6 separate regions of the Homo sapiens genome follow, and regions 1, 2, 3, 4 and 5 are each linked to region 6. The links come from fine-mapping of genetic effects on gene expression. A gene starts in region 6. Each other region holds a variant in brackets. All regions are shown on one strand. Distances are between the middles of the regions. Region 1 overlaps PLB1 (phospholipase B1). Region 2 has its middle 23 kb from the start of PLB1. Region 3 overlaps PLB1 (phospholipase B1). Region 4 overlaps PLB1 (phospholipase B1). Region 5 overlaps PPP1CB (protein phosphatase 1 catalytic subunit beta). Region 6 holds the start of PLB1 (phospholipase B1).

The links. PIP is the estimated chance that this variant, and not a neighbour inherited with it, causes the effect.
Region 1: its variant is the best candidate, but not a certain one, in a credible set for the expression of PLB1 in monocytes (TOPMed, PIP 0.88).
Region 2: its variant is the best candidate, but not a certain one, in a credible set for the expression of PLB1 in whole blood (INTERVAL, PIP 0.78).
Region 3: its variant is the best candidate, but not a certain one, in a credible set for the expression of PLB1 in monocytes (TOPMed, PIP 0.57).
Region 4: its variant is the best candidate, but not a certain one, in a credible set for the expression of PLB1 in nasal epithelium (TOPMed, PIP 0.54).
Region 5: its variant is the best candidate, but not a certain one, in a credible set for the expression of PLB1 in whole blood (INTERVAL, PIP 0.73).

Annotation. Positions count from the first base shown.
Region 1 is chr2:28,602,909-28,606,995 of GRCh38, reverse strand. PLB1 (phospholipase B1) reads right to left here. Exons shown (of 58, transcript NM_153021.5): 39 at 4,075-4,087; 40 at 2,949-3,030; 41 at 2,237-2,341; 42 at 1,048-1,143; 43 at 429-500. Among named protein-coding and RNA genes, the nearest start is that of PLB1, 110 kb to the right of the region's middle. RefSeq lists enhancers at 1-87, 88-719. The variant G/A (reference allele first, on the strand shown) is at 2,238.
Region 2 is chr2:28,471,392-28,475,478 of GRCh38, reverse strand. No RefSeq gene overlaps it. Among named protein-coding and RNA genes, the nearest start is that of PLB1, 23 kb to the left of the region's middle. The variant G/A (reference allele first, on the strand shown) is at 2,452.
Region 3 is chr2:28,597,776-28,601,862 of GRCh38, reverse strand. It overlaps PLB1 (phospholipase B1), which reads right to left. Exons shown (of 58, transcript NM_153021.5): 34 at 3,815-3,858; 35 at 3,103-3,211; 36 at 1,003-1,054; 37 at 531-611. Among named protein-coding and RNA genes, the nearest start is that of PLB1, 100 kb to the right of the region's middle. The variant G/A (reference allele first, on the strand shown) is at 2,091.
Region 4 is chr2:28,546,928-28,551,014 of GRCh38, reverse strand. PLB1 (phospholipase B1) reads right to left here. Exons shown (of 58, transcript NM_153021.5): 15 at 2,084-2,155; 16 at 931-1,005. Among named protein-coding and RNA genes, the nearest start is that of PLB1, 53 kb to the right of the region's middle. RefSeq lists a silencer at 357-557 and an enhancer at 319-613. The variant G/C (reference allele first, on the strand shown) is at 1,835.
Region 5 is chr2:28,781,221-28,785,307 of GRCh38, reverse strand. It overlaps PPP1CB (protein phosphatase 1 catalytic subunit beta), which reads right to left. Exons shown (of 8, transcript NM_002709.3): 4 at 3,466-3,570; 5 at 1,330-1,401. Among named protein-coding and RNA genes, the nearest start is that of SPDYA, 28 kb to the left of the region's middle. The variant C/T (reference allele first, on the strand shown) is at 2,447.
Region 6 is chr2:28,494,237-28,498,323 of GRCh38, reverse strand. It overlaps PLB1 (phospholipase B1), which reads right to left and starts at 2,264. Exons shown (of 58, transcript NM_153021.5): 1 at 2,155-2,264. The coding sequence starts at 2,209.

The sequences.
Region 1 (4,087 bases), 110 kb before region 6:
TCCAGGCTCTCCTCTCTCCAACCACAGCTCTTAAGCCTGCCTGGCTCCTGCCTGGGCCCTCTAACCTGCAGTCAGATTTTTTCATCTGCCCCAAACACCACTGCTAAGAGAAGCCCTCCTGCCATTTTCCTGGCATCCTGATTTCCTCTCTCAGGAGCCCACTTTTCTCACCGGGATCCTCTCCCTCTGCTGGGGCCCAGGCCTCCTCTCCCTGCTGCATCTCCTGTTCCCAATGACAGCTGCACTCTTGTCTCCCCTCTCACCTCCCCTGTCCATCCTCATGGACTCCCCTCCATCCTCCAAATCTCTCAGGCCTCAGTAAGGGGGCAAGATGGGTACTGAGGAAGCTGTGGTGGAGGACGAAGTGGGTAGGGCGAGCTGTGTGCCCTGGTTTGTGGAGAGGAGCCAGGCAGGTCCTCCCCTACTACCTGAGTGGGACAGGTGATGGGCATCTCTGCTCTCAGGTCCAGGGTCTCTGTTTTGCTTCCAAGTGGTTCAAGCTGATCAGGGAAGAAAAGAGAGACACGGGTGTAGTAGTTTGTTTCCATGGAAGTGAACATTCCCTGGCAGAATCCTGCAGTGGGGAAAGCTCAGAACTCGATTTCAGGGGGCTTGGCTCCCACTTCTGGCTCTGCCAGTTGCCAGCCGTGGGGTTTTGGGCCAGTCGCTTTGCTTCTCTGGGAGTAGCTTCCTTGGAGACTCGTCATGCTTCTCTAGCAGGGATATGCAGAGCCTTAAATGAGATAACGTGGCTTAAACTGCCTAACATGGTGGCCGGCACATAGGGAAAGTGGAATGAATATGGGGTTTTGGGCTTGCATTTCTGTAGAGAGGTCCCTCCTCAGAGTTCAAAGCTCTGAGGAGAGGGTGCAGTTGAGCCCAGGCTGAGCAGACTCTTAAGGACTCCGCATTTCCAACTGCATAGACGTTTATAGATGTACCAGCCACTGCCCCCTCAGCCTCACTTGCAAGACTCCATTCTATAGGGGCTGGTGCCCTGCCCTAGACTAGAACCCCAGAGAACAAGGAACACCCCACTTATTTTACCATATTGGTCCAAAGGGCTCTGGCCAGCTGGGAGTGGAATTTCTGATTTGGGTGGATGCAGTCTGGGGCAAAGAAGGACGTATCTGGGAGCCCATCCTGAAAGAGACCAATATACCCCCTCAAGATCCTATTGGTTCAGAGGGAGCCACCACCAGCGGACTTGGCCCTGGGACTGACCACTCAACACCTTCCTTCCCCTGGAGTGCTCCAGGTCACCAGCCACCACAGGGCCCATTCACCTTAACAGAGAGATCAGAGCGATCCCACAAAGAATAGTTTTGGGTGACGCCAACCCCCAACCTTCCTTTTTGACCCTACAAGTGCCCCTTATTCAATTAGAAGTGTCGTATTTATTTTTGGGCACATTCATGTAATGCCCGAGGCCATGCCACAGATGAAGGAGTGGGATCCTGGTCCCGCAGAGAGTCTTAGCCCAGCCAGCTGGGAAAAGCTACTTCCCAGCTTTTGGTCTGCTGGTCCTGGTAGTCTTGGTGGGGAGAATGGAACAAAGCCTTGGGGAAGGCCTGGGTAGTTGGGTCCCCTGACTCCAGCCTCTTCATCTGGAGGTGCTGGGGGTGCATAGAGCTGCTCTCCTTCCTGCTTTCCAGTTAGGTGAGGCTCTTGGGATGGCAGCCCAGGGGGACAGACCTCAGTCCTCACCTGGTCCACTCACAGATCTCTTCTGTTCAGAGTGGAAGTGCCAGGCAAAGGGCATGGCCTGGGTGGAAACAGAGAACCCCCAGAATGCTCCCTTATAACCGCAGCGTTGCACACGAGAGAGACCACGTGCGTGGCAGAAAACTAGTCATCTGGAGCTGGCTGTGTTCATGTTGGCCTCCCTGTCCCTTATTTCCTAAATGATCTTAGGAAGGACGCTTCACATCTCTGCACCTGTGTTCCATGCGGATGATCACACTCATTTCCAAAGGCAGATGTGACAGTTTTATCTATGGGAAGCACAGTGCCTGGCACTAGTAGGTGCTCAACACAATGGAGGCTGTTACAGGGGTCATGGGAGCCTCGCACATACGGATGTGGCTCAGGCGTTCAGGGAGCCTGCACCTGCCAGCACAGCGTCTGGAGAGCTGTGTCTTTCCCATTTTATGCACATGCTCGTGGAAGCAACTGGCAATTCTGCCTTGCATTTCTTCCTCTAAAAGAGTACCATGGGTGAGGGCAGGGGACATACC[G/A]CCAGGACAGGGAGCTGGATGTTCTGGAAGAAGGGCTGCAGCACCACAGAGAAGTCCTCCTGCGTGTCATAGCGGCCTGACCCCACCAGCTCGCGCATGCTGCTCTGGGGACACATGCACAGGGTCTTCAGCCCAGGCCCTGGGTGGGCCCAGGACCCAGTGAGGCAAGAGTAGGGGTGGTGGGCAGTCCATCTCCCTGGATGGAGGGGCCGACTCAGCCTTTCCCTTGAGAACACAAATCACCTGAGGGCAAGTCCCTTTCCAGAGAATTTGGAAACAGGTTGGGTCACCTTTTTGTTTTGATTGTAAGTAGACTACTCTCTCTGAAGGGCTAGGCAGGAAGTCCCAAAAGGGATAAAAACCTGGGAAGAACCTCCAGAGGCTCGGCACCTGCCTTTGGAGTGGGAGTGGGGGAGGGAAAGGTGGTCTCATGAGGCATCCAGGGCTACGGGCCAGGAGTTGGGGTTAAGCCCTCAACGGTAGCTGGGCCATGAGGGCTTTTCCACCTGGATCCTACTGGGATGATTCCAACCAGGGCACCTGAGACACCACAGTCACGTGAGACAGAGGAAGGCACCCAGGCTGCTCCCCGTCTCCCCACAATCCCTGACCAGCTTTTCCTTCCCTGTGTGCCTCCTCTAGGGGCTCTGGGCTGTGTGTTAGAGTGAACGTAGGGGAGAGGACACAGCATGGTGCCCTTCTTGGTCTTACCCGGTAGGCTCGGCTGAAGGCCTCCAGCCTGGCTAGCTCTTGGGAGTTCTCCCGCAGGGTCAGAACGCAGTTACACAAAACGCTGCACAAAGAGGGGGAGGCAGGAGGCCCCAGAGCTCAGGCTTCCATCAGGGGCTGGTTCTGATTGCCCAGGTTCAGGGGAGGGGTGGAGAGGCTCCCTCCCGCCCTGGTTTAGGAGCACTCAAGCCTTGAGGCTCTGGCGCACATGCTCAGGGGCAGGCTTCAGGCCTGGCAGGGGCACTGGAGATGGCCCGAGGGAGGGAGCCAGTGTGGGAATGAGCACCCTCTCATACCAACAGAGCACAAGTGTTGGACTGCAGGTGCTGGGCCTGCAACCGATTATTCAGCTGAGCAAATGAATTTGGGCAGTGAAAATTTAGTGTTTAATTAAAAAGAAAATGCATCCTCTGGTGTTGGAGCTGATATTTTGGGGCCTCTGATGCTATGCCTTAGACCTCTCCTTCTTTCACATGAGTGCCCTACTGTGTCCCCTTTGGTTTCATCATGAATTATTTCACACCCATCACATCTACTTAAGAGAGAGATTTCTAAAGCACTTGAAACAATGCCTGGTACACAGGAAGTTCTGTAAGATTTGCTGAGTAAATAGATGTGTAAGATATAAAGAATAATAAAACACACATCCATGTACTTATGGCCCAGTTTAAGAAACAAAACACTCCCAGTTTGAAGCTCCCTGTGTCCCTCCTAATTCTCTTCTTCCCCTAAAGGTAACTGAGTTGCTTGTACCTTTTCCTTGCTTTCTGTTACAGTTTGACCACATATGTCTACTTCCCTAACCACTGCCCATGTTCACAGTCTAGGCTATCCTGTCTCTCAAACACCAGCCTCTGTCCCAACTTTGATCCCTCCCCTCTGTGGCTGCCTGGTATCATAGAAGTTCCTGCCAGGCACCTTGAAGTTGGGTAACAGGGGAGTCATGGCTCCAGCCTCTGGAAGGGGACGTTCTGGCAGAAGTCCTCCTTTACAGACTTGGACACATGGATAGACCAAGTCACAAAGACCCTGAGGCATCACCACTGCATGTGGGCCAGACCAGGAGGTGAGGGCATCTCCAGTGTGGGGACAGCCAGGACCTGCCTACCTGGCCTGCTGCA
Region 2 (4,087 bases), 23 kb after region 6:
GCTGTCACTCTCCAAGCCAGAGCTGAAGGAGGCTCATGGTGGTGGAGAAGGAGGAAGGTGGTGGGAGGTGAGGCCAGCTGGACTTCCGGGGTTGAGTGGGGACTTAGGGAACTTCCCTGTCTCACAAGAGGATTGTAAAATGCACCAATCAGCACTCCATAAAATGCACCAATCAGCGCTCTGTAAAACACACCAATCAGCACTTTGCAGCTAAAGCACCAGTTTGGGGCCAATAAGGGAAAGGATTCTAAAAGTAGCCAATCACGGGGAGGATTGAAAAAAGGCACTCTGATAGGACAGAAATGGAACATAGGAGGGGACAATAAGGGAATAAAAGCTGGCCACCCCAGCCAGCAGCAGCAACCCACTTGGGTCCCCTTCCATGCTGTGGAAGCTTTGTTCTTTCACTCTTCACAATAAACCTTGCTACCGCTCACTCTTTGGGTCTGTGCCATCTTTAAGAGCTGTAACACTCACTGCGAAGGTCCCCGGCTTCATTCTTGAAGTCGGCCAGACCACGAACCCACCAGCAGGAACCAATTCCAGACACAGTGGGTAAGGAGATGTTCAGGAAGTGAAACTGATGGATGATGTGTGTAGGTAACGAAAGATCTCTGACCTTTGCACTGGAATGGATGCACTTCATTCCCTGCATAGGGATCACTGGGCATGGGAATTTTGGAAGAATGCAGAGGGAAATCATCAATGCAGATGTGGACACAAGCAGCATGCAGTGCCTTTAGGACACACACTCAAGAGATGCCGGAGGGGCAGGTAGACCCATGGATCAGAAACTCAGATGAGAACTCTGGGCCAGAGTGGCTAAGAGTCAGATGCAGTCACTCAAGCTGTGGCAGCAGAGCCTGCTAGGAGAGAGAACAAGGGGGAAGGGAAGGGCCTGGGGAACTCTTAATGATATTTAATAGCTGGGCAGATAAGAAAAAATCCTACAGTGCAGACAGAGGAAAAACTGATTGGAGAAGTAAAAGGTTTGTGTCAGGGAGAGAAGTATGTTTTTAAAATAGAGAATACTGCTGAAAAGTCAAGGATATGAGGCCTGGAAAATTGGGTTTTCTCAATAAATAAAAATAAAATAAAAATTGCTGACCTTAGTGGGATCCCTAGAGCCTCAGCTCAGTGTCCCTGGGCACCTATTTCCAATCTGGAATTTTTTTTTTTAAGAGACAGAGTCTCACTCTGTCATCCAGGCTGGAGTGCAGTGGCACCATCAACGCACTGCAGCCTTGAGCCTGGGCTCAAGTGATTCTCCCGCCTCAGCCTCCAGCGTAACTGGTACTACAGGCACACACCATCATGCCTGGCTAATTAAAAAAAATTTTTTTTTTTTAGAGATGGGCTCTTGCTATGTTTTGCTCAAGCTGGTCTTGAACTCCTGGTCTCATGTGACCCTCCCACCTTGGCCTCCCAAAGTGCTGGGATTATAGGCATGAGCCAATGTGCCCAGCCACCACTCTGGTGTGTCTGGAATTGGTGGGTTCTTGGTCTCACTGACTTCAGGAATGAAGCCGCGGACCCTCGCGGTGAGTGTTACAGTTCTTAAAGGCGGCGTGTCCGGAGTTTGTTCCTTCTGATGTTCGGATGTGTTCGGAGTTTCTTCCTTCTGGTGGGTTCATGGTCTCGCTGACTCAGGAGTGAAGCTGCAGACCTTTGCGGTGAGTGTTACAGCTCTTAAGGCAGCATGTCTGGAGTTGTTCCTTCCTCCCAGTGGCTTCGTCGTCTTGCTGGCTTCAGGAGTGAAGCTGCAGACCTTCACGGTGAGTGTTACAGCTCATAAAGGCAGTGTGGACCCAAAGAGTGAGCAGTAGCAAGATTTATTGCAAAGAGCGAAAGAACAAAGCTTCCACAGTGTGGAAGGGGACCCCAGCAGGTTGCCACTGCTGGGTTGGGCAGCCTGCTTTTATTCTCTTATCTGGCCCCACCCACATCCTGCTGATTGGTCCATTTTACAGAGAGCTGATTGGTCTGTTTTGACAGGGTGCTGATTGGTGCATTTACAATCCCTGAGCTAGACACAAAAGTTCTCCACGGTCCCCACTAGATTAGCCAGATACAGAGTGTCAATTCGTGTATTTACAAACCCTGAGCTAGACACAGAGTGCTGATTGGTGCATTTACAAACCTTGAGCTAGATACAGAGTGCTGATTGGTGCCTTCACAATCCCTTAACTAGACATAAAGGTTCTCCAAGTCCCCACCAGATTAACTAGATACAGAGTGCTGATTGGCGCATTCACAAACCCTGAGCTAGACACAGGGTGCTGATTGGTGTGTTTACAAACCTTGAGCTAGATATAGAGTGCTGATTGGTGTATTTACAATCCCTTAGCTAGACATAAAGATTCTCCAAGTCCCCACCAGACTCAGGAGCCCAGCTGGCTTCACCCAGTGGATCCTGCACTGGGGCCGCAGGTGGAGCTGCCTGCCAGTCCC[G/A]CGCCATGTGCCCACACTCCTCAGCCCTTGGGCGGTCAATGGGACTGGGTGCCATGGAGCAAGGGGCGGTGCTCGATGGGGAGGCTCAGGCCACGCAGGAGCCCATGGTGGGGGAGTGGCGAGGCTCAGGCATGGCGGGCTGCATGTCCCGAGCCCTGCCCTGCAGGGAGGAAGCTAAGGCCCGGAGAGAAATTGAGCACAGCAGCTGCTGGCCCAGGTGCTAAGCCCCTCACTGCCCGGGGCCAGCGGGGCCCGCCAAGCCCACGCCCACCCAGAATTCTAGCTGGCCCACAAGCGCCGTGCAGCCCGGGTTCCCGCCCATGCCTCTCCCTCCACACCTCCCTGCAGGCTGAGGGAGCCAGCTCCGGCCTCGGCCATCCCAGGAAGGGGCTCTCACAGTGCAGCGGCAGGCTGAAGGGCTCCTCAAGCGTGGCCAGAGTGGGCACCAAGGCCAAGGAGGCACCAAGAATGAGCTGAGGGCTGCCAGGGCTGCCAGCACGCTGTCACCTCTCACTGGGACTTTTATTTGTCCATCAGTAAAGAGGAAGAGATCATCACCAAGGTCCCTCCCCTGCTGAGCATCATTCCAGAGCACCATCATGGAGGAGACGTCCCTGCCCCTGTCTTCACTTATATCCTCCCTGGGCCCCTGTCTTCACTTATATCTCACCACATCCCATGGGCATGTTTTGGGGTCACACCCCCAAAGCCACAGGGCCCATGTGTGGGTGGAAGGAAATTCCTATTCATTCAACATTCTGTGAGTGTTGGGCCTTCAGTGAGCCAAACCCATTTTAGGTGTTATGTGGAAGACAAAAAAGAGACAAGATGTGATGCCTGCCCTCAAGGATCTCATCATCTCTGGAGAGATAAGATGAACGTACTCAGAAAATAATAAAGTCTAGAAACATAACAGGAAAGTGCATGGAAATGTACACAGAGGCACCAAGTGCAAGTGGGACTCTGGGGGCAGCTGCCTGGGGAGGGGAGATTGGAGGAGGCCTTGAAAGGGTGATGTGCCCTTGCTGGAGGAGCTGGGGCAGCGGCATGGAGCTCAGGTATGACAAGATGGGTATGGGGTTGGCCTGGCATGTCTGACCAGGTGGGGTGGGGCTTCCCAGAGATGGGGTGACACAGGTGTGGCTGCTTCATTCCATCCAGGCCCACAGACCTGGGCCCAGGACCAGCCAGCACCACAGGTCCAAAACCACATTGGACAGATGTCATCCTGTAGGAACATGTTCCCCGAGGAGGGTCCCTTCAGCCCTAACTAGGATGCCTGGATACACAGACACACAGCACATCCTGGCCAGGGCGGGGGCTGTGGGAAGGATCCAAGCATTGCACTGCAGCTTTTATCACACCTCACCCTTCTCCATCCCCACAACCAAATCGATAAAGGGTCATCTCCTACCTGAACCGTTCACAAACTCCTTTCTCCCTCTTCCTGTCACCCTCACAGCTGGCCTCTTGCTCTCTTCGCTGGCATGATGGGTGCCCTTGGGCTTCTCCCTGGGCTCTGCCAGCTGGACCTTCAGCCTGGGACAAGCCTTTCTAGGCAGTTCATCCCTGAGAACACTGTGGTGGCCACATGAGGGAGGCAGATCCTCCCCCGCCCTGGCTCCCGCCCATATCC
Region 3 (4,087 bases), 100 kb before region 6:
GTTAGGGTGGGAGGGCAGTGGGGCAGTTCTCAACTTCCCTTCTGGCTCCAGCCCTGAGGACTTGTTCCCCCTCTAGCCTCCAGCTGTGGCCAGCTCACCATGTCAAAATCTGAGATGAACAGTTGACTACTTGCTGTTGTCAAAGATGGGCCAGTGGGAAGACTGGAACCTTCAGCCAGAGCTTTGGTTCAGGAGCAGAAAGTGGAGACTCCTCCTTCCAATTGCTTGCTACAGTTTCCTCTTTCTGAATTCTCAGGAGTTATAAGAGAGAGGAGTAGAAATACCATATATCTGCCACCTGCTACCTCACCACCTAGGACATGGAGATGGTGCCAAGGACCTGGAGGGTGGTGGGGTAAGAAGTGTGTGTGTGTGTGTGTGTGTGTGTGTGTGGTATGTGTATATGTGCAGACATAGGTGTAGGTGGATAATCCTAGGATTGGTTTTAGGAACTGTTCTCAGGGAAGATCTCCAACGCCTACTGGGCAAAGTTAGGAACAACAAGTAGGCCTGGACCTGGCCCCAATTACCGAATCTGTGCAGTAGTCACATAAATCGCTGCCTCCGATCAGCACTGTGATGACCTTCCAGTCTTCATGGAAATTTACTCTCTATATGGAGGGAGGAAAATGCTTGATAATTTCCAACAAGGAAATGAAAATATCCCTGCCCTAGGAAATCCATTCAACCCTCTATAACATCCTTGCCCACTTGAAATAATGGAATCAGCATCTCTGAACTGAAGGAATTTTAGAGGTTTATTTATAGACCACAGACTCTTAGCATCAGGAGGGATTTTCAGTGTCGCTGTACCCAGCAACAAAGCTCTCTCCATTGACATACCCTCCTCCACAGGACCTCTGTCAGGGGGCTGTCCGACCACTGCTTGAATGCCTCTAATAACATGGGGCTCACTGCTTTTCAGAGCAGGCCACTCCGTTTGGAGACAACTTTAGTGGGTTAGAAAATTAATGTTTAGAAATAACAGTAAATCTGACTCACATGATCATCTTTCATCTTCTGCATCAGAGTTTGGACTTGGCTCATAAGATCCCTGAGAAAGAGAGAAAACCCATCCTTCTGTTGAGGAACAGTGCCCATAGTTTTCCTCCTAGAGGGCCTGAACCAGAGGCTTCTACAGTATCATCCCCACTGCATGAGCTGGCAGAGATCCCGAGGCTCAGAAACCAGGAGTGACTTGCCTCTTCTGGAAAGTTATTACAACAGATAATCATTTGAAAAGCCAATGATGTGTTTGTCCTACAGCTGTAGTCAAAGTACTGCCAATTATATTTGTTGCTCATGGTCACCTTTCTGGGACTCCACATGCAAAAGGGCCTTTAGGATTCCATGCTAAGAGACCATTCATCTCCTTTGGAAGACTAGTTTAGATCCTAAAATTAGACCTATGAAACTTCTAGCATGCTTCCTCTTTTCACTCTGGCTGCCAGGAAGCTGAGTTTGATGCTCAAACATAATAACCGTAAAAATGTTCATATCGACACACAGGCTTCCTCTTTATTTCCTCCAATGGCTGCGATTTTTCTCTTACGTATATTCTTTTGTTTGTAAACTTATCTAAATGGTTCTTTCAAAAAGAGGTAGGGAATCATATGTGCTCTACACATGCTTGGGTTTATAATTTATGGAAGGTGGCAGGCCTGGTGGCTCACGCCTGTAATCCCAGCACTTTGGGAGGCTGAGGTGGGTGGATTGCTTGAGTCCAGGAGGTTGAGACCAACCTGGGCAACATGGTAAAACCCCATCTCTACAAAAATTACAGAAAAATTAGCCAGGTATAGTGGTACATGCCTGTAGTCCCAACTACTAGGGAGGCTGAGGTGGGATGATTGCTTAAACCTGGGAGGTGAAGGTTGCAGTGAACTGAGATCATGCCATAGCACTCAGCCTAGGTGACAGAGTGAAACCCCATCTTAAAAACAAAAAAAGGCCAGGTGCAGTGGCTCATGCCTGTAATCCAAGTACTTTGGGAGGCAAGGTGGGTGGATCACTTGAGGTCAGGAGTTTGAGACCAGCCTGGCCAACAGGTGAAATCCTATCTCTACTAAAAATACAAAAATTAGCTGGGC[G/A]TGATGGTAGAAGCCTGTAATCCCAGCTACTCGGAGGCTGAGGCACAAGAATCACTTGAACCTGGGAGGCGGAGGTTACCGTGAGCAGAGATTGTGCCACTGCATTCCAGCCTGAGTGATAGAATGAGACTCTATCTAAAAAAAGGCCAAAATTATAATTTATGGAAGGAATAGATTTCAGGCGTCTGTGCTCCCCACTTCCACTTGTTCAGGGCCCCGTTATAGACCTGGGTGGGATGGATCCATAGCAAGGTGATCTCCTAGGACACGGTGGTGGGACCATCTGTCCCCAGCTGTTTCTATTACCAAGAGTCTTTCCAGGCTGAGGGAGTGGGTCTGGGGGCCACACCCCTCAACCAGAAGGTGTGGGCCTGAGCAAGAAGATGACATGTGACAGAGGCTCAGATGGCTGAGCCAGGAGCTGCATAGAGCAAGAAGACCTAGGCTGCTGGGGCCTCTAGGAGCAGGGTGGGGGCCCCTTTGGAGCCCACCCCAGGAGGCTGGGCAGTTGCTCTTCTTTGGGTACCTCTGGGCTTCTCCATTCCATTTCTTGTTAGCTCCATAATGGGGCTAGGGAGGGGACATGACTCTTTGCTCCAGATGCCTCTAGGGCCAGAAGGCTTGCCCCATCCATTTGGTTGGCCCTCTCTGATCTTTTTGGGAAATTGCCACTTGTGAGGTTCTGCGGGGAGTGGATCTCTCTAGCACTGTTGTGCCTTGGTGAGTTGTAAACATTGGATAAGGTTAGTCGATTCGTCCAATTATGAGAACATGCTGCACATGAAGGCAAGGTCAGGAGTTGAACCTATAGGGGCATCGCATCTCTCCAAGGCCACAGCCTCTCTGGCCTATTACAACCTTCGTCACAGGGGCAGCAGGGAAGAGGGCAGCCTGAGCCTCACAAGTGGCTAAGTGCCCCTTTGCACATAGAGGCCAGCCCCATGGTCTTAAAGGGTACTATCCACATTCCACTCCCTGCTCTGCAGGCTCCCTCCCTCCCCAAATGCCATACTCAGCCTTTGCTCCGGGAACAGCTTGATTGAGGAATGCATTCGTGTCATTGGCATCACCCGTGCCCACGGCGTAGCCTGTGAGGTTTCTGTTAAACTCCCGAAGGATATCTGGAAGAGAAGGTGAATGGGATGCAGACGGCTCAGAACAGAAAGCCAGAATAGCTTCTCTGGTACTGTGGGACCTAGGTCCCCAAAGTGGGCTGTGTTATCATCCTCATGCTTCCTGGGGAGAGGCAGGGAGGCAGTGTGTGTCCTGGACATAAGCTGGGACCACCCTAAGTTGACATGACCTGATGACTAGGTGGGCCAGGGTGGCAAGAGCCTCTCACTCTTGTATTAAATTGTATTAATACAATTCACAGTGCATTGAAGGGTCACTACCTAATTTGTCTCAGCACCTCCTGGGCCTGTTGGAAAAGCCTGAGGCTAAAAATAGCGGGTAACTTGCCCTAGGTCACCTGACAAGCACATCGGAGATTGAACCCAGCACCAGGGATTGAAGCACCAGGGATTGAACTCAGATCTTCAGGCTCTAAATCTGGTGTTTATTTTACCTGCCTCGGCTGCTTTTTCATAGCCTCCTGTCTCCTACTTAAATGCTGGGCCATAAGGCAGATGTCATTTGCTGCTTACCTGGGAGGCACTTTCGGGAAGCCAAGGGGCCAGATGGGTGGAACAGTAGACAGATTCAAGCCCCTGATGGTTACTTACTAGGTAAGGTGGTCACATTCTCCAGGGAGCCGTCCCCTCCTGCACTGTAGGGAGTGAGCAAGCCAGTGAATGAGAGGGAGAGACATATTGGTTGAATCAATCTAGGAACTTTACACAAGAGCAGCCCCCACCCTTCTTAGTGCCCATCGGCACCTTTGAGATGGGCCAGACCCATCTCTGAGTTTGAGGAATTCTGAGAAAATTTTTAAGCCCCTAACATATTGGTTCCCTACCGAATCCAGGATTTGAAGATGAGAGAGCTGTTTCTTTACC
Region 4 (4,087 bases), 53 kb before region 6:
GCAGCTCGGAAGATGAACTGTGGGGGAGACCTGCTTCCAGGCACCCAGGGGATGGCCACATGCTGGATCCTTCTCCCTCCCCCAGCCTGTCCTGACTGAACATCAGCGGTTAGTAGCAGACCTCCATATGCCTAGGGGCAGCGGGAGTTCCAGGATGTTAAGAACCACATGGAATGGCTGGGCGTAGTGGCTCACATCTGTCACCTCAGCACTTTGGGAGGCTGAGTTGGGTGGACCATGAGGTCAGGAGTTCGAGACCAGCCTGGCCAACATGGTGAAACCCTGTCTCTACTAAAAATACAAAAAAATAGCCGGGTGTGGTGTTGCGCGCCTATAATCCCAGCTACTCAGGAGGCTGAGGCAGGAGAATCGCTTGAACCCAGGAGGCTAAGGTTACAGTGAGCTGAGATCACACCATTGCACTCCAGCCTGGATGACATAGCGAGATTCTGTCCCCGCCCTCCTCCCACCAAAAAAAAAAAAAAAAAATTGTATTGAGGTTGCAAATCTGGCCAGTTGATCTGCTTTAAAATAATCCAGGCTGGGCGCCGTGGCTCACATCTGTAATCCCAGCACTTCGGGAGGCTGAGGCAGGCAGATTGCTTGAGGTCAGGATTTCAAGACCAGCCTGGCTAACATGGTGAAACCCCGTCTCCACTAAAAAAAATACAAAAATTAGCCAGGCATGGTGGTGTGCGCCTGTAGCCCCAGCTACTCAGGAAGCTGAGGCAGGAGAACTGCTTGAACCCAGGAGGTGGAGGTGGCAGTGAGCCGAGATGGCACCACTGAACTCCAGCCTGGGCAACAGAGTGAGACTCCATCTCAAAAGAAAAAAAAAAAAAAACCACGTGGAAGGTTCGAAAGATTCAGCAAGAAGTACAGCCCCTGGTTCATCTGCATGTTTGTCAATTACAGAAAACCTTTCCTTACCTCAAGCTTGTCTTGGGGTTTCTGCAGTCTGGTCAGGTAGTTGCTGTTTCTGTAGCTGAACAGATAGGGGCTCTCCTGCAGGGAAAGGTGACATGTTGGAATCGTGACCCTAGAAGTCTGTATCCCTTAATTATCAGGCTTCAGCATCCAGTGATGCTTTTGGCCAACTAGGAACATTCACATCACGCTTCCAGTGAGGACCAAACCATTCTCTGGCTCTTCTCTCTGGTCCCTGAAGGACTCATGAATGCGTTGACATTTCCCATTTGTGATAGCCAGTCTCTCTTGCTCTTTACCCTGGGGGTTCATGCTACCAGGCTAAGTATATATATTTTGATGAGAAGGGAATCTAATTTTAAGCTTCTTGGCAGCCAAAGCAAAAAGTGCAAGAAGGTGAATTGTATACTTATTATTGCATAGTAACAAAAAACTTACCAATTCATCAAGAAAGCCAAATACTTGACTAGCATTAAATGATAGAAAGACTAAAAATACAAAAAAATTAGCTGGGTGTGGTGGCACGTGCCTGTAGTCCCAGCCACTTGGGAGGCTGAGGCAGGAGAATCGCTTGAACCCGGGAGGCAGAGGTTGCAGTGAGCCAAGATTGTGCCACTGCACTCCAGCCTGGCAACAGGGCGAGACTCCGTCTCAAAAAAAAAAAAAAAAAAAAAAGAAAGAATCTCATTCATTTATGTCCAGTTATTTTCTCATCCACTTATTTGGAAACATTAATTATAAGCCTACTACATACTAGGCACATATTTAAGATGTAGTCAAAATGATCCACTTTTCAGGTACTTAGATACTCACCATCCCTCCCTTCTTTGCCACTCTGAGGTAGAGGAAGGTCTGGAAATGGCATCTGGGGCAGAGGGCCAGGACCCAGAGGCAGCATTTGGGGCCA[G/C]GTGAGCTGTGGCCTTGTTCCTATGCCTTCCACAGGCATGGAGGGGGCTGCAGTTTTGCTAGAACAGCTCTCATGGCCCACAACTGTAAACATTAGGGCTGCTATGTATGCAAAACTGTGTGCAGGCCCAGAAGAACAGAAACAGGATTCACATCTCAGGTAAGACCCACTTCACAGCAAAGCCCACTTGGCCACCCCACCTGCGCCCTCGATTCAATAAGAGTCCCTCCTCTGCCCAGTCCCTCCTACCTGAGAGGGACACTTCATTGGCCTCCCGTGTTTTACACTCAATGGCTCATCTTTCTCTCCTGCTGGCTCCATCTAGAAAGGAACGTGGGCTTTAGAACAGGGAAGTTTTGTGCAGGTAGCAGCCTGCCAAGTCACCAGTGAGAAAGACTCATTAGTCCAGCAGCAGTACCAGGGAACGCATTAGAAATGCACGTGTCCAGCCCCCATCCCCAAACTACTGAGTCTGAGACTCTGGGGCTGGGGCAGCAGTCTGTGTTGTAAGCAGCTCTCCAGGCGATTCTGATGCACACCCGAGTTTGAGAACCACAGCATGAGAAGCAGCATCGGTTTTATATATATATATATAGAAGGGACTTCCTAGTCTACCTCTCCTAGAAGGAAAAGCTGCACAGCAGAGGTTGAGGTGGGGCCCAGCCAGCCAGGACAGAGCTGGGACTCCAACATTGGTGTCCTGCATCCAACCAAACATCTAGCAATGGGTCACACAGCTTTCTGATCACGTGGGGGCCGGTTATCCAGCTTGGCTTCTTGTCCCCTCCTTGCTGCCCAGCTACTTTCTGGCTCACTGATTCAAGTTCCCTTAGACAGGAGAGCCAGTATGGGAAGGAAGGGCAAATGCATCGCTTTTTACATAAAGCATGTATTCTTTCCCAAGTCCTCCCCGCAGCCTGTGTCCACAACCCAAATGTAGGTAAATCTGCGCACAATAGAGAATGGAAACCCTCTGTTCCCTGAGAACTGCTTTCACAGCTTTGAGTGAAGCAAGTTATGGGGCCTGGGTCAAGTCTCATGTCTTTCACGGGGTCACAAATACAGTGACATGGAACACAGCACAGCCAACACTCACAAACCGCTAGAGTATCTAGTGAGCCAGGAGTGGGTGGTGTGGTATCCGCTGTGAAATAGGCAGCTACTTAAATGACAACCACGAAGGCCATCAAATGACATCTAATAACGTAGATAAAACATTTATAGTATAACAGCAGGAGAAACCAGCAGATTATCAACTTAGTAAAGCATTAGACATAGGGAAGTGAAGGCCGTTAAAGAATTAGAGGGAAGGAGGGATTTTTTTTAAAAGTTGTTTTTGTTATTTTTAAATGTTCATTATACATATATAAACACTTACAAAGAAAAATGCAATAGCTTGGAGGGATTGCAGATTTTCTTCTGCACGGGCTATTTCCTACTGTTGGAGAACCAGTTTTACTGTCATCTGGCTGCCCACAGGTGCTGGGCTCTGGTCGTACCTCTGGCCCTCACCTCCCCTTCCAATGACTCTGCCAAGGAACGTGGGAAGCTACTGGATGGGGCAGCCTGTCTGGCTCAGTCACAGCTTCTACCAACCTCCATGAGGATTTTCAGATTCCTCAGCGGTATCTTACCCCAGCATCTGTGCCCCAATAAGCAAGAAACAAGAAAAGAACTTTACCCTTAGTGGAATTGGCTCTTCAGCCAGACTGAAAGAGAATCAGATAAGGAGGTATAATTAGCTGAACATTTGGAAAAGGAGTGGCAACTCTCTAGCTCAAGGCCTAGGAGAGGAAATGGACTCCACGCTTCTTTCTGTTTTATTCTGATGGTGGCCGCTCCTAGAAACAAGGTCCCACCTGGAACATTCAAGGCGGCTGTCAAAGGAAGTATTGAGCAGGCCTGGGTGAGGGCCAGGTGCTGATCTGTCTTGCCACCTTCTCTTCCCCAATTTTTTTTTTTTCTTTTTTTTTTTTTTGGAGACAGGGTCTCATTCTCATTGCTCAGATTGGAGTGCAGTGGTGCGATCACAGTTCATTGCAGCCTTGACTTCCTGAGCTCCGGTGATTCTCCCACCTCAGCTTCCCGAGTAGCTGGGACTATAGGTGTGTGACACCATACCCAGCTAATTTCTTGTATTGTAGTAGAGGCAGGGTTTTTGCCATGTTGCCCAGGCTGTTCTCAAATTCCTGGCCTTAAGCATTCCTCCTGCCTCGGACTCCCAAAGTGCTGGGATTACAAGCATGAGCCACC
Region 5 (4,087 bases), 290 kb before region 6:
GATCAAGAGATCGAGACCATCCTGGCCAACATGGTGAAACCCCATCTCTACTAAAAATACAAAAAATTGGCCGGGTGTGGTGGCGGGCGCCTGTAGTCCCAGCTACTCGGGAGGCTGAGGCAGAAGAATCACTTGAACCCGGGATGCAGAGCTTGCAGTGAGCCGAGGTTGCACCACTGCCCCCCAGCCTGGTGACAGGGCAAGACTCTGTCTCAAAAAAAAAAAAAAAAAAAAAAAAAAAAGCTCCTAACACAATTTATTACAACATACAGTGTATTACATGGCTACTGACATCAGAGGATCTATACCATTTATAATGGTTGATGTGTAGTTCTGAGCAGCATTTTTTGTGGTGATTGTTGTTTCTTTTTTCTTTTTTTTTTTTTTTTTGAGACAGTTTCACTCTGTCACCCAGGCTGGAGTGCAGTGGTGTGATCTCGGCTCACTGCAACCTCTGTCTCCCAGGTTCAAGCAATTCTCGTGCCTCAGCCTCTTGAGTAGCTAGGATTACAGGAACGCACCACCATGCCCAGCTAATTTTTGTTATTTTTAGTAGAGATGGGGTTTCATCACGTTGGCCAGGCTGGTCTGGAACTCCCGACCTCAAGTGATCCTGCCCACCTCAGCCTCCCAAAGCGCTGGGACTACAGGCGTGAGTGCCACTGCTCCCAGCCTTCCCAGAGATTTCCAATGTAATTTTCACAAAACTGACCACAGGTCTCTAGAGCCTTAAGAGCTCTAAAAATTTAAGCCAGGTATGGCACATGCCTGGAGTCCCCTAGCTACTCAGAAGAGGCAGGAGGATTGCTTGAGCCTAGGAATTCAAGGCCAGCCTGGGCAACAGATTGAAATCCCTCCCACACCCCCTTGAAAAAAAGCTCTAAAAATTTCAAATAGAGGACATAGAAAATAACAAAAAACTACTAGACATTTGAAAAGAAGGTAGTTGTATCCTTGCCTAAGAAGCAAAGAATAGATTATTTTAATTAAAAAACTTTTGTCTAATTTAACAAATTTTTGAAGAACATAACCAATGCTAGTATGAATGAGGGAATTTAGAAAAATAGGTATAAGGACTCAACAGCAAAATCTTTTTTGTGATCAAATAACTACATTATGACTATAAATAAAAAGGTTCCGCATTTTGAGGATCAGTGCAAAGTGAAAAATTGTGTATTACTGCAAATAAAGTAATCTGTAGCTGGCTTATTGACTATGAAAAAAGCTCTTTTATTTATTACATAAGCCAATCCTACTTCCACTAAATGTAATCAAGTTCAAATATGAAAACACTTTACACAAAACAATTAAACTTCTCTCTACACTTACCTGTATCAGGGACATCAGTAGGTCTCATAATTCTCCGAATCTGCTCCATAGATTGCAGGTCTGGTGACAATCCTATAAATAAAAAGATGAGACATAGTACTAACAGCTAAAAATTTTAATATTTTAACAGTCACCGAATAAAAAGCATTTAATCAAAATAGATTCACTATGTGAAATTAAAGATACTGAAAAGTGTTCCTTTTAACGTCTTTTTTTTTTTTCGAGACAGAATCTTACTCTGTCACCCAGGCTGCAGTGCAGTAGCGTGATCTCAGCTCACTGCAACCTCCACCTCCCGGGTTCGAGCGATTCTCCTGCCTCAGTCTCCCGAGTAGCTGGGACTACAGACGCGCGCCACCACATCCAGCTAATTTTTTGTATTTTTAGTAGAGACGGGGTTTCACCATGTTGGCCAGGCTGGTCTCGATCTCTTGACCTCATGATCCAACCACCTTGGCCTCCCAAAGTGCTGAGATTACAGGCGTGGGCCACCGCGCCCTGCCCCTTTTAATGTCTTAAAGGGCAACACAGAGTTATTAGGAATTCCACTTTGATATAATACAGCATTATAATTGTTTTTTTCCATTTTTCCCTACCAGGGAAATGAAATTCCTTTATATTTCAAAAGACTTCCCAAGGAAAAAAAAAACTACCATTCTTTTTTCCAATCATTCCCTGGCCTTCATAGAAACATAATCAACTGCAACCCTTCCTACCACTTTTGCCAGTTCTTACCACTAATCTTAAACATTTTAACTTCTAAGTGAAAGTGCCTCACTTGGTTCCCTAAGACCTTCTTTTCACATCCCACTCCAACATGTTCATTATCTTCATGAAGTCATAAACTATTGATCAGAAGGATTAACAGGAAAAGCTCATAAAAATACTCTGCAATCTTTGAAGTGGTATATAAGCTATTATTTCTCTCTGATAGGCAATCCAAGTATCATCACAAGGAATGAAGCTAAACATTCGTATCCATACTGCTACACTTCTATCCTTAGCTACACTAATGTACAAGAACTACAATTCATTACGTGTTTAATGTCTACTGGAAAACATATTTCAATTAATATAGTGAATTATGTTCTGCCAGAGAATAAACCATTTATTACCT[C/T]GGGCCTAGGCAAGTGCATCTATCTTTTCAGCGTTTTTCCACTTTAATTCTTCCCGTATATTGATGAAAAACTAATTTTCTTACACTATTTCCATTAAATTACTTCCCTGTACAAAAACCCAATACGGTTATTAAATCACTCAACAAACTCCGTTGCTCAATAGTCAAATCTCCATAATCTGATTCCATCATTTCCCAGCATGTACTTGACCTTCTAGTCAGGCCAGTTCTTACACATTCCCTAAACTAGACAACAAAGAGTGTCTCAAGTCCTTTTAACTTCTCCAAAGCCTATTTATCCTCTAAAACCCATGCCTCCATACACACATGTACCCAGTCTTTCCTCCTCCTGACTTCTCATAGTGTCTTAATAAGTTCTGACATATTAAATACCTTTTATTACTCAATTATCTGTTTCATAAATGTATCTTAGCAACAGGTTTTTAACTCTTCAAGATGGTCAGATCATACACTATCTACTAGCTAGGTGTTAGACATATACATTAATTTTTCAAATAAACTTTCAAAAAACTTCAAGCTTATTTCATAAGCCATACAGAGTAACCTACCAATCTGCCAAAGATTATTTTATTATTTTATTGTTAATACTAAAGCAAATATATTATATGAAGCCTAGAATTCTTGATATATGTGAATATGAAACTCAATTTTATTTGGATTCTGATGAAAGATTTCAATATAGGCAGGAAGATATCCTCTCATTTTTACTAATAAATAGCAGGGGTGTCTTTCTGTTAAAACTTGAGGCAAAGGAGACTTTCTCAAACAACTCTAGTTACACTCCTTATATGTGAAACTGTATTTAAAGAAGCATTACGTTTTCATTTATAAATAAATTTCTAATTTTTAAAAGAGGTTTAGCCATGTTTAAAACAGTTTTAATCACTTGAGTTTTCATACAAGCACTGCTTTGTTTTCCCACAGCCTCTTGATTATTATAGGTATTTTCCGAATAATAGAAGAAAAAAAAAATCTGTAAGGCAAATTTACTAGTCTACCTCCATGACAACAGAAGATCTTCTCATCCACAATGGCTGCTATAGGCAGACAGTTAAAACAATCAGTGAAGGTCTTCCACAATTTAATATTAAATCTTCGTTTGCCTGTAAAAAGAACAGATAGAATAAATTAAAAAATCTAAAACTGTTCTCATCAGTTATCTCAAAGCCGCAGGATTATGAATGATTTCAATTTTCTTCATTTCTTCATGTTTATCTATAAAGAAGAACTTTTTCTACAATGCAAAGATGTTATTTACGTACTTTCAAAAAGGCAACAACTACAATAAACATTCAATACCTTCAGTAAAGTTACCAAGACTTCAAAGATTGTGCTGGGGGTAGGGGTGGGATGGGAAGATGTTGGTCAAAGAATACAAAGTATCAGTTGGGTAGTAGGAATAAATACAGAAGATCGATTGTATAACAGTGACTACAGTTAACACTATATTGTATCTTTGTAAAATGCTAAGAGTAAATTTTAAGTGTTGTTTTCTCCCAAAATGCTAACTTTTTGAGGTAATGCATATGTTAAATCAGCGGGATTTAACCATTCTGCAATGTATATATACTTCAAAACATCATGTTGTACATCATAAATACATAGAATTTCTGACAAATA
Region 6 (4,087 bases):
TGAGCCTGGGAGGTTGAAGCTACAATAAGCCATAATTGCACCACTGCCCTCCAGCCTAGGTGACAGAGTGAGACTCTATCTCAAAAAGAAATAATAATAACAACATTGGGTTCCTCTCATATACTATTCATAAAAGTCAATCCCAGATGTAGGGTGATTGACTTAAACGAGAAAAGTAAATTTATAAAGCTTTTAGAAGGAAATATAAGATATCTTCATGACCTCGAGGTAGGAGAGGAGTTATTTAAGATACAAAGAGCACAAACCATAAAGGAAGATTTAAAATACATATACTTAAGAATAAAGGCCGGGCACGGTGGCTCACACCTGTAATCCCAGCTCTCTGGGAGGCCGAGGCAGGCAGATCACTTAAGATTAGGAGTTTGAGACCAGCCTGGCCAACATGGTGAAACCCTGTCTCTACTAAAAATACAAAAATTAGCCAGGCACGGCGGCAGGCACCTGTAATCCCAGCTACTCAGGAGGCTGAGGCAGGGGAATTGCTTGAACCTGGAGGGCAGAGGTTGCGGTAAGCTGAGACCAAGCCACTGCACTCCAGCCTGGGTGACACAGCCAGACTCTGTCTCAAAAAAAAAAAAAATAGAGAATATACAAATGGACAACGGTGGGACCACATATGATAACAGAACTCTGAGCCACAGTCTGCAATCGGCCAGGCCAGAGAACCAAACTGCAGCCTCTGCAGCAATCAGCCCAGAATGGTCAGGTTTGGTTAATGACTGCCATCTTCTCTATTTTTTGCTCTGCTTCCAACTCAGGACCCCTCAGAGAAAGCCAGATACACTCCCAACTGGATAACTTCAGATGCCGTGCCTCTAGTCAGCTGGTCCCTGATACCAACAACCTCCAACCAGAGCAGATCTGAAGATTTCCCTTTTTTCCACTGTGAAACTTTCCCACTCCCCTGCCTGCCTTTGAATCTTGGCCAAACATAAGTGATGTCTCGCTACAGCGAGCTCTGAATAAGTAGCCTCTGTTTGTCCTCATTTGGGTAGTCTACATTTATTTACACAAAATTAAGAATTTTGCTCATCAAAAGTCCCCATAGGAGGACAAGCTTCAGAGTGGAACAAGATATTTGTCATATATGTAACCTCCAAAGAGCTAGTACACAGCATATATGGAGAACTCCTAAAAAATCAATAGGAAAAAGACTTCAACAGGCACTTCACAAAAGAGAAACTCAAACAATCTCTATGAAAACACTCCTTGGCCTCATCAGTAATCAAAGAAATACAATCATCCTGTGCAGAAGGCATAGCAAGCATCGTCATTCTCCCCCACGGCTCAGAGCGGTAACTGACTTGCCCCAGAGAAGCCTCAAGCATGGGCTCAGACCCTAGGCAGGCCCAGGACTCTGTCCCATGCCTCCTCCACTCTCTCTGGGGAGTCAAGGGCAAGTGCCTTCTCACTCCAGACCCCGTCCTCTCATCTGGAGAAGATGAAAGATCTTTAAGGCCCTTTTCAGTTTAAAAGATTCTGCCTTCCTAAGCAAAGGGAGAGCCAATGATGGGAAGAAGAGGGGCAGAGAGGGATTGTGGCAGAGGCACAATCTACCCACAGTCATTAATGTTGGGGGGAATGGAAAGCCCTGGCTGGTTGCCCACTCAGTTCAATGAAAGCTCAGCACTCTGTTTAGCAGCACTAAAGAATGTAGGCAATCTTTTAGAATTTATCATCTGGAAATCTGTCTTCCTTTGTCCTTCAAAAACAAAACAAAGCTCATAAATGGTAATAGTAATGATCAAAATGTGCATAGTAGTAGTATTTCCATTTTAAGGATGAAAAAAATCAAGGTCCAGGGAGGTGGAAGAACTTGCCCAAAGCCACAAAGCACAAACAAATAGAATCCAGGGGTTTTTTTTGTACCATGGTACTGCTACCGGACTGCACTTCTCTCCTGTCCCAAGATCTGCCTCGCTCCCGGCAGCCTTTGGGACATGTAACCCTGTGTAGGCAGCCTCTGCATCCCATTCCGCAGGAGGCAAACCAGACTTCTTATTCTTGAACTGTACGCTTTGTGCTTTATCTCTTCAAAAGCACACACTCCTCTCACACACCCATTGCCTAAGCAACATGGGACACCAGCGGGGCTAAACCACTGGTTGTCCTCTGAGCAAAAGGCACGCTTACCTTGCCCCAGAAGCAGCAGCAGCTCCAGGAGGAAAATGCCTGGCCGCAGCCCCATGCCAGAATGCTCCAGGTGACTCGGGCCTCTGGAAGAGCTGCTCCAGCAGATGGATGGGCTATCACACCTCCTCCTGCTTTTATGTTCCTCTGTGTTCTGATAGAGCACCTGTCATAAATTTTACTGTGTTCACCTTTGAAAGGGGGTAGTGGCGGGCTGTAAATGATAAATATTAACACTTAGGCGGAAGAGTTCTTAAGGCAGATGAGTCAATGATGGGTAGCATGTTCTAGTCATAGACACTGACAGACCAGGGCCGCATAGCTGCCTCCATACAGCCTTCCATGATGGTGGGTGCCCAGAAATTGCCGGTGTTCGGGTCTGCTGGGAAGAACGTGGGCCTGGGAATCCCAGGTGCTGGTCGGAATTCCAAATCAACCACAGCTGTGGGAACTTGGGTGTATCCCTTAACGTGGCCTCAGCTTTCTCAGTTGTAAGCCAGGAGATCAAAAGTACCTTGTAACAAATGTAAACCATAAACCTACCTCCAAATGTGAAACGTGTTCCCACCGTGTCTCAGAAGCTCTGCTAGGTTCCCTGGTTTGCATGACACAGAGAGGTTTGTTCTGTTCCCCCCATCTCCAAACCCATGGGTGGCCAGTTGTGTTGGGTGGATGTGCACACCATAGATTTGTTGTCTGCATGTTGAATTCAGAGATACAAGCCAGAGAGGGGGAACCAAGTTTGACAAAATCAGCCGTTTCCTTTGGGTAAACTAAGTCAGGAATGCAGGCTGGGTCTAAACTGGGCAGACAAAGCTGGCATTTAAAGCCTGAGTGACAAATACCCTTGAGAGTAGAATTTAAATTTTTTACACAAATATCAAGAAACAATTGCCTTGGTTGATAGGAACAAATATATTTAAATTATCCTTGCTTTCTGGCCATGCTTGTGGGTGTGAGGCTGGGATCCTGACTTCTGAGGTCTAGCTAAGACTCTAGGGCTGGTTCCCATGACCCAACCTCAGATTCTGATCTCCTGGCTGACCCACTTTTCTCATATTTAAAAATCACAGCCAGACACAGTGGCTCACACCTGTGATCCCAGCACTTTGGAAGGCTAAAGAAGGAGGATTATTTGAACCCAGGAGTTTGAAAACCAGCCTGGGCAACTCCATCTCTACAAAAAATAAAAATAAATTAGCCAGGCATGGTGGCATGCACCTGTAGTCCCAGGTACTTGGGAGGCTGAGGCAAGAGGATTGCTTGAGCCCAAGAGTTCAAGGTTGCAGTGAGCTATGATTGCACCACTGCACTCCAGCCTGGACAAGAGCAAGATTCCATCTCAATTAAAAAAAAATTGTTTTTAATTACTGTTATAACCTCTATTGTCTTGAGTAGAAAGTGAAGACGAAGTGAGTGGCCCTTTGTTCCTGAATCTCTGGTTTTAGGATGTTGTCTCCCTTTCTCAACTGCTCAGAAAATATGTGACTTGTGGGTCACCACTGATTTAGCCAATGCCAAAGGCTTAGCCTAAGCCTCAGGACTGTAGGGGGGTATTGGGACATGCCAGAGGTGTGTGGACACTGACACACTTAGTCCAGCTGGCCATCAGCTAGTTCCAGAGCCTAGAAGAGGGCAGCACACACAGACACACAGAAAAGGAAGAAGAAAATACACCCAAGGCCAAGGTCTGTGGGGGACAAGTGAGCACAGATGCCCCTGGATATGTAGACACTTGTCAACTTCACCAAACTGCCCCCAAGTTCAATGAGAAGCCAGAGCTGCTGTCCCACTAAGGATGTCAGGAGTTTACCCAGCTCCATGCCACCAGCAGCTTTGAGGAGCATCACTGAACTTGCCTGGGCTGAATAGGCCAAGGTCCCCACTCATGTGCAGGCCAGCTGGAGGTGGGGTGGAAAGGACATGGGGCATGCGC